Homo sapiens: one gene and its partner. The protein of the gene in region 1 purifies or fractionates together with the protein of each later gene. This does not show direct contact. Each region holds a gene or a part of one and is shown on either strand. Other genes may lie near its edges.

Region 1 (3,581 bases):
CTAAAAATTAAAAAAAAAAAAATTAGTTGAGTGTGGCGGCACATGCCTGTAGTCCCAGCTACTCAGGAGGCTGAGGTGGAAGGATTGCTTGAGCCCAGGAGGTTGAGGGTACAGTGCACTCTAGCCTGGGCAACACAGCAAGACCCTGTCTCAGAAAAGAGAAAAAAAAAGAAGTTGGGCACAGTGGCTCATCCCTATAATCCCAGCACTTTAGGAAGTCAAGGTAGGTGAATTACTTGAGGTCAAGAGTTCGAGACCAGCCTGACCAACATGGTAAAACCCTGTCTCTATTAAAAACACTAAAATTAGCTGGGCCTGGTGGTGTGTGCCTGTAATCCCAGCTACTCGGGAGGCTGAGGCAGGAAAATTGCTTGAACCCAGGAGGTGGAGGCTGCAGTGAGCCAAGATCATGCCACTGCACTCCAGCCTGAGTGAAAGGGCAAGATTCTGTCAAAAAAAAAAAAAAAAAAAAAAAGGAAAGAGACCCATGTTCCAAGATAGAAGGTATGAATCACTTTGCTTTTTCCTTGCGTGAAGGGTTGGGGGAAAGGAATCCTATGATCCTTAAACAGCAAACACTGTCAGCAAGACTGCAAACAAGATCCATTTAGTGGGGAAGAGGGGACTATTAAAAGCTGCTAGAAAACTGAATAAAGCAAATCAAGACTGAGAACAGTTCCAACTCCCATCAATCTCCAAACAGTGACAGGTCGGCAGCAACTCCTTTCCTTTATTTCTTCCCCTTGTAAAGGGAAATTCAAGTTCAGCAGCATTCCTTTCCTGCCCCAAGTCCTCAACCAGACAAGAGGCTGCAGGCACCAAATCTTGGGCTGGATAATGGCAAAGGCCTCAGAAGCTCACCTCCAGCTCTGAGCTTCAACAGCTGTTTGTACCAGTGAGTCAGCATTAAATCCACCAGAAAAGAACAGCACCACCCAAAGACTGGGGGGCAGCTGGGCCTGAAGCTGTAGGGTAAATCAGAGGCAGGCTTCTGAGTGATGAGAGTCCTGAGACAATAGGCCACATAAACTTGGCTGGATGGAACCTCACAATAAGGTGGTCACCTCTTGTTTGTTTAGGGGGATGCCAAGGATAAGGCCAGCTCAGTTATATGAAGAGAAGCAGAACAAACAAGTCTTTCAGAGAAATGGATGCAATCAGAGTGGGATCCCGGTCACATCAAGGTCACACTCCACCTTCATGTGCCTGAATGGTTGCCAGGTCAGCTGCAGGCCAGAGGCAGTCTTCAGAGGAGGGGAGACCACAGAGGACTTCTAGGCCACACAAATATGTCTCTCGGGAGACTTCTGGGAAGGAAAGCTCACTCTCGGGGCCGGCTGACCATGACTTCACCCAGGGCCTCCAACACCTCCCGCTTGTAGTCTTCAAAGTCACCATCGATTTGGCTAACACTCTGCTCCTCCACCACCCACAGCTGGCAATTGGTTTCTGTGATGAGTCGGGCATCATGGCTGACAACGATCACAGCTTTGAAGAAAGATAGCAACAACAGAGGGCAGGAAGAAAGGAGAAAGAGGGGAATCAGAACATGAAATAAGGGAGTCCTAGGCCCTTCTGTAGTGAAGGACACTACAGCTTGGTCCCCATGGAGCAGGGATGAGGGCACACTCTCAGCTGACTTACCACCCTTGTATTCATTGATGGCCTCCCCTAGAGCATCAATAGACTCTATGTCCAGGTTATTGGTTGGCTCGTCCTACATAGGAGGAATTCCATGACTGAGCACTGCAACTCCCGTCTTCCATTACTGTTACCCTTATCCCTTTTCCCACAGCCCAGCTCACTCACCAAGATGAGGACATCAGGTTCCCGACAGGCCAGCTCAGCAAACACAACTCGCGCCTTCTGACCACCTGTAGCAAAGGAAGGGGAGGGCTGTCACACCTAGCACCTCACATTCTGAAGGCAAACCCTCAAGATGTGCCAGTTTGTGAGCTGAGGCTCCCTCATTCTCGGTTCCTCTAGGTACAGTTTGTAGACATGAATGATAAGGTGAAGGGCACCCTCCCTGGCCCCTGAAGTGGTACCAGAGAGTTTGCAGATCTGGATGGTGTGGGCGTGACTCTCCAGGCCGAAGCGGCCCAGGCACTTGCGGGCATCCTGGTAGGGCAGGTTGAAGCCCCGCTGCAGGTACTCAGTGGGCGTCTCCTCCATGCGCAGCTGCTCTGCATACTGCTGGTTGAAGAAGCCAATTTTCTGCCCGAGAAGAGAGGGAGGTGGTCGGTTAAAGTCACACTTCCTCCATCAGATTATCATTCCCTAAATCCCAATGCCAACTTACCAGCCGGTGGTTCTTTCTCATTTCCCCATGGGTCTGCAAGGGAAGACAAAGTAGTTAAGAGGAGGGCAAGGGAAAAAGGTGCTGCAGCTCCATACATCAACTTTTTTTTTTTTTTTTTGAGACGGAGTCTCGCTCTGTCCCCCAGGCTGGAGTGCAGTGGCGCGATCTCGGCTCACTGCAACCTCCACCTTCCGGGTTCACGCCATTCTCCTGCCTCAGCCTCCCCAGTAGCTGGGAATACAGGTGCCTGCCACCACACCCGGCTAATTTTTTGTATTTTTAGTAGAGACGGGATTTCACCATGTTAGCCAGGATGGTCTCGATCTCCTGACCTCGTCCATACACCAACTTTTCTGAAGGAGAGACAAACACCAGAAATGGGCCAGGGACAAGTATGCATAAGAAAAGGAATAGGGGCTGGGCACGGTGGCTCATGCCTGTAATCTCAGCACTTTGGGAGGCCAAGGAAGGCAGGTCAGGAGGCACTTAAGGTCAGGAGTTTGAGACCAGGCTGGCCAACATTGTGAAACCCTGTCTCTACTAAAAATACAATAATTAGCTGGGCATAGTGGGACATGCCTATAATCCCAGCTACTCAGGAGGCTGAGGCACAAGAATGGTTTTAACCCAGGAGGTGGAAGTTGCTGAGATCGCACCACTGCACTCCACCCTCGGGGACAGGGGAAGACTTTGTCTCAAAAAAGAAAAGGAACAGGGATGTTCCCCTAATATGACAAAGGCATGGTGAGCAAAGTAAAAGAGTTAAGGGACAAAAGGGGAGTTAAGCAAAATGGAGGACAAGAGGGACAAGCAGGAGGGACTAACCACAGCCAAAGAACACCTGCTCTCCATACAGCGAGACTCACGAATGGTACATCGTAAGGGCCTCATGTGGCAAGTTTAGTGTTTTGGGGAGAATCTAATAATACCTTTCTAAAGATCTAATCTCTGGATATGAGAAAATGGCCTCTCAACACTGCTAGAGAGAGCAGAAATGGCTACAAACTTTCTAACACACTAGATGGCAATATATTACAAAAGTTCAAATAAAATGGTAGAGTTTGCCGGGCGTGGTGGCTCACACCTGTAATCCCAGCACTCTGGGAGGCCGACGCAGGCAGATCATGAGGTCAGGAGATCAAGACCATCCTGGCTAACACGGTGAAACCATCTCTACTAAAAATACAAAAAATTAGCTGGGCGTGGTAGCACGCGCCTGTTGTCCCAGCTACTCGGGAGGCTAAGGCAGGAGAATCGCGTGAACCCAGGAGACGGAGGT
Region 2 (3,283 bases), on another chromosome or scaffold:
TCACCTGGGCCCAGGAAGTCAAGGTTGCAGTGAGCTATGATCATGTCACTTCACTCCATCCTGGGCAACAGAGCAGACCTTGTCTCCAAAAATAAAAAGGACATTTTAGCAAAAATTTAACACGATTATATTGACACAACATATAATCAGAAAAGTAAATGATTTCTATCAGAGGCTACCAAAAATACAAAAATAAGATCACAAAGAAGTTGTTCTTATCTAGTTGAAAGTCCAGTATCCTCTAACCTCTAACCAAGATAAGTCTGTTTTTATGAATCATTGCAAATCATGTTCATCTCATCACAATCAATAAGTGAGACCCATATGGCCAGGTAAAATGTGGGAAGAATAACACTCTATAAAATGAGGCATATTTTCAGGGAAGGATAACTACATCTCTAAGCATGAGTTAAATAACATCATACAGTTTCTAAGCCTTAAAAGAAGAACGAATGGATGTTTCTCCAAAATGTAATCTAATTATGTAATATAATTTCAAGAGGCCCCTGGCCAGGCAGTTGGGTATTAACATAGATGTCTAGATATTGCATGAGAAAAATACCTCATGGCTTAAGAGACCGTGAAGCCTTAACAAACCTTCCTCTTTCGTCTACAGAGATACATGAGCAACAAGAATCCAAAATTGCAAAATCTCTTTCATATTTCCATACGGTCCATCAGGCATTTTTTCAAAATCAAACTCCCAAGCAAGATGCACTTTATGTACTCAACATGTTTATTGGAGCAGCTTTGAAATATGTAGTCTGTAAGATACATCACAATCAACAAGTGAGACCTACGTTACCGCTTCTTTCCAGAAGAACGCATGTGCTCAAAACCAAGTTGCTGTTAAAGTGAAAGCAAATCTCTTAGGTGGTGATGAGCAAATAAGGAGTCCAATTTCACTTTTTATCTAGATCAAATACATCAGCAGACACTCAGAAATGGTCAAGGACAGGCTCAAGGACAACGAGTAACTTGCCCAGTGTAGAAGAACTTTCCATATTTGAGAGCTTGAGAAAGACGTGTAGAGATGGGGAAGACTACACTGAAGAGTGCAGCATGGCACTGTTATAATCAGCAGATCAGAGTTCTAGACTGGTTAGCATTAGGGAAAATGGCATGGTCAAAACTCTGTCTCAATATTATCAGATCAAGGTCAGCGTCATATTGGTCCTATGGCATCCATACAAGAAAGAGATGATGATCTGTCACTCCATATATGAAACGGGAGGCTTTTAAAGCTTACTAGTCATAAACAACTTACCTCCCGACTCATTTCATCAGTGAAGCTTTCAATGTTGAACATTCATAAATGAATATATTGCCCACATGTGCACCACTTCCAGCCTAAATCTTCTTTGGATAAGTAACCTGTTACCATGAATATAAAGAAGAGTTTCATTTAAATTTAATTTGGTCCCTTAGAAATAAGAGACTAAATGTTCCAACTTTTAGAAAGGATTCAAATAAGATATTTTCATTTTGCTAATTTTTAGAGTTCTTGTTATACCAAAAAGAAAAGCCCCTCTGATTTCTTAGGTTAGACATGGGTAAAGGAGAAAGGTATTAATACGTGAAGCAATCCATATAATAGTATAAGAAGGGTGTTATGGTCTTGCATCATATGAGGAAATGATATGGGCTAGAAATTCTAAAAGACTCTTTTTACATATATGGTTGGAGGGATGGTAAAGTTAATAAATTTGTGGTTTGCCGTAGTCTATCTACTGCAGTCATTTTTGGGAAATAGTTACCACGAATGCAAGATATAGTTAAATCAAGGTATTTCTTCCCTCATAGGTGGCGGACGTGTGAAAATTGAGAGTGTAAAACTAGATTTCAAAGAAAAGGCCCAAGCTAAAGTTGGTTCTCTTGATAATGCTCATCATGTACCTGGAGGTGGTAATGTCAAGGTAAGAAACAAGGTTATGAGCCAATCTTGTCTTTTTAAAAAAAATTCTTCTGAAATACTCTTCATCAAAATAGGTCCCAGATTGTAGACCTGGACAAATAAGAAGTGGGGATAACAGAGGTGAATAGAAGTCATTAATGTCAGCCCTGGGAGATGGAGAAAGAGGTAGGGGCCAGTTAAGATGCATGAGTTAACGAGGACTGATGCTTGTCTTAAACAGATTGACAGCCAAAAGTTGAACTTCAGAGAGCATGCTAAAGCCCGTGTGGACCATGGGGCTGAGATCATTACACAGTCCCCAGGCAGATCCAGCGTGGCATCACCCCGACGACTCAGCAATGTCTCCTCGTCTGGAAGCATCAACCTGCTCGAATCTCCTCAGCTTGCCACTTTGGCTGAGGATGTCACTGCTGCACTCGCTAAGCAGGGCTTGTGAATATTTCTCATTTAGCATTGAAATAATAATATTTAGGCATGAGCTCTTGGCAGGAGTGGGCTCTGAGCAGTTGTTATATTCATTCTTTATAAACCATAAAATAAATAATCTCATCCCCAAACTGTAGTAATTGTTACAATTTTCTATTTAAAAAATGAATAGTACATGCAGAAATTGACCTGATTTCCATTTGCAACAGGAAGACACTGGCTTTACATGGGTTCAATTGGACAATTATTTTTGCTCTGCTCTGTTTTGCATGGAGTATTATTATTTTAAAAATTGCATTTTTACCTTTCATGTGCCTGAAGGCTATCCACTACATTCTGAAGGCCTTGTTAAAATCCAAGCTGCTCATTTCACTATTCTGTTTCTGAGTGAGAAGATAAAAACTGCCCATTGTAACTTATTTCAGGTTAAATTAAACCAAGGAGTCTGATTGCAGGAAGGGAAGAGCATGTAAGAAATAAGTTTTTTTAAAGTGTTATTTTGTATAAATGGGAAGAAAGATTCAATTAAGTTATTAACATTTGGGACCTGGATAATTATATCAGAGTATGTCAGTCCAATAAATTATTTAACTAATTAAAAAATAGTTGCAAAGCATTTGAGCTGTGGTTGAGGAAGTGGTGTAAAAGTGCATCCATTAGGAATGATGCACTTTCATTAGGATGGACTCGTGTCTGATTAGAATGTCAGTTGATCAGCTAGATTTGTGTCCACACTACCAGTTTCACACCCCCTTTCCATCTGTTTGATACAGTATTATAGATATAAATATATATATATTTCTCTGTGGCCATTTGTGATACTTCCTCATATACTTGAATATTATACTTCTTTATTCACAGTATCTGTGTCTCCTGCACCCTTTGGTGTTGCAATTTTAGATATGTGAAAGTAGATGTTAGCAGGGTTCTCTCCCTATTTAA

What was found. The genes of interacting proteins can lie anywhere in the genome.
Region 2: the proteins of ABCF1 (region 1) and MAP2 fractionate together in Homo sapiens (co-fractionation; one large-scale study listed by BioGRID). This does not show direct contact.

What each region holds. Positions count from the first base shown.
Region 1 is NC_000006.12:30,588,442-30,592,022, reverse strand, and holds the end of ABCF1 (ATP-binding cassette sub-family F member 1), read right to left. Parts: intron 2,336-3,581; coding exon 2,303-2,335; intron 2,218-2,302; coding exon 2,049-2,217; intron 1,875-2,048; coding exon 1,810-1,874; intron 1,718-1,809; coding exon 1,645-1,717; intron 1,489-1,644; coding exon 1,322-1,488; 3' UTR 501-1,321; downstream 1-500. UniProt on the Homo sapiens protein: Isoform 2 is required for efficient Cap- and IRES-mediated mRNA translation initiation. Isoform 2 is not involved in the ribosome biogenesis.
Region 2 is NC_000002.12:209,728,047-209,731,329, forward strand, and holds part of MAP2 (microtubule-associated protein 2), read left to right. Parts: intron 1-1,803; coding exon 1,804-1,916; intron 1,917-2,135; coding exon 2,136-2,351; 3' UTR 2,352-3,283. UniProt on the Homo sapiens protein: The exact function of MAP2 is unknown but MAPs may stabilize the microtubules against depolymerization. They also seem to have a stiffening effect on microtubules.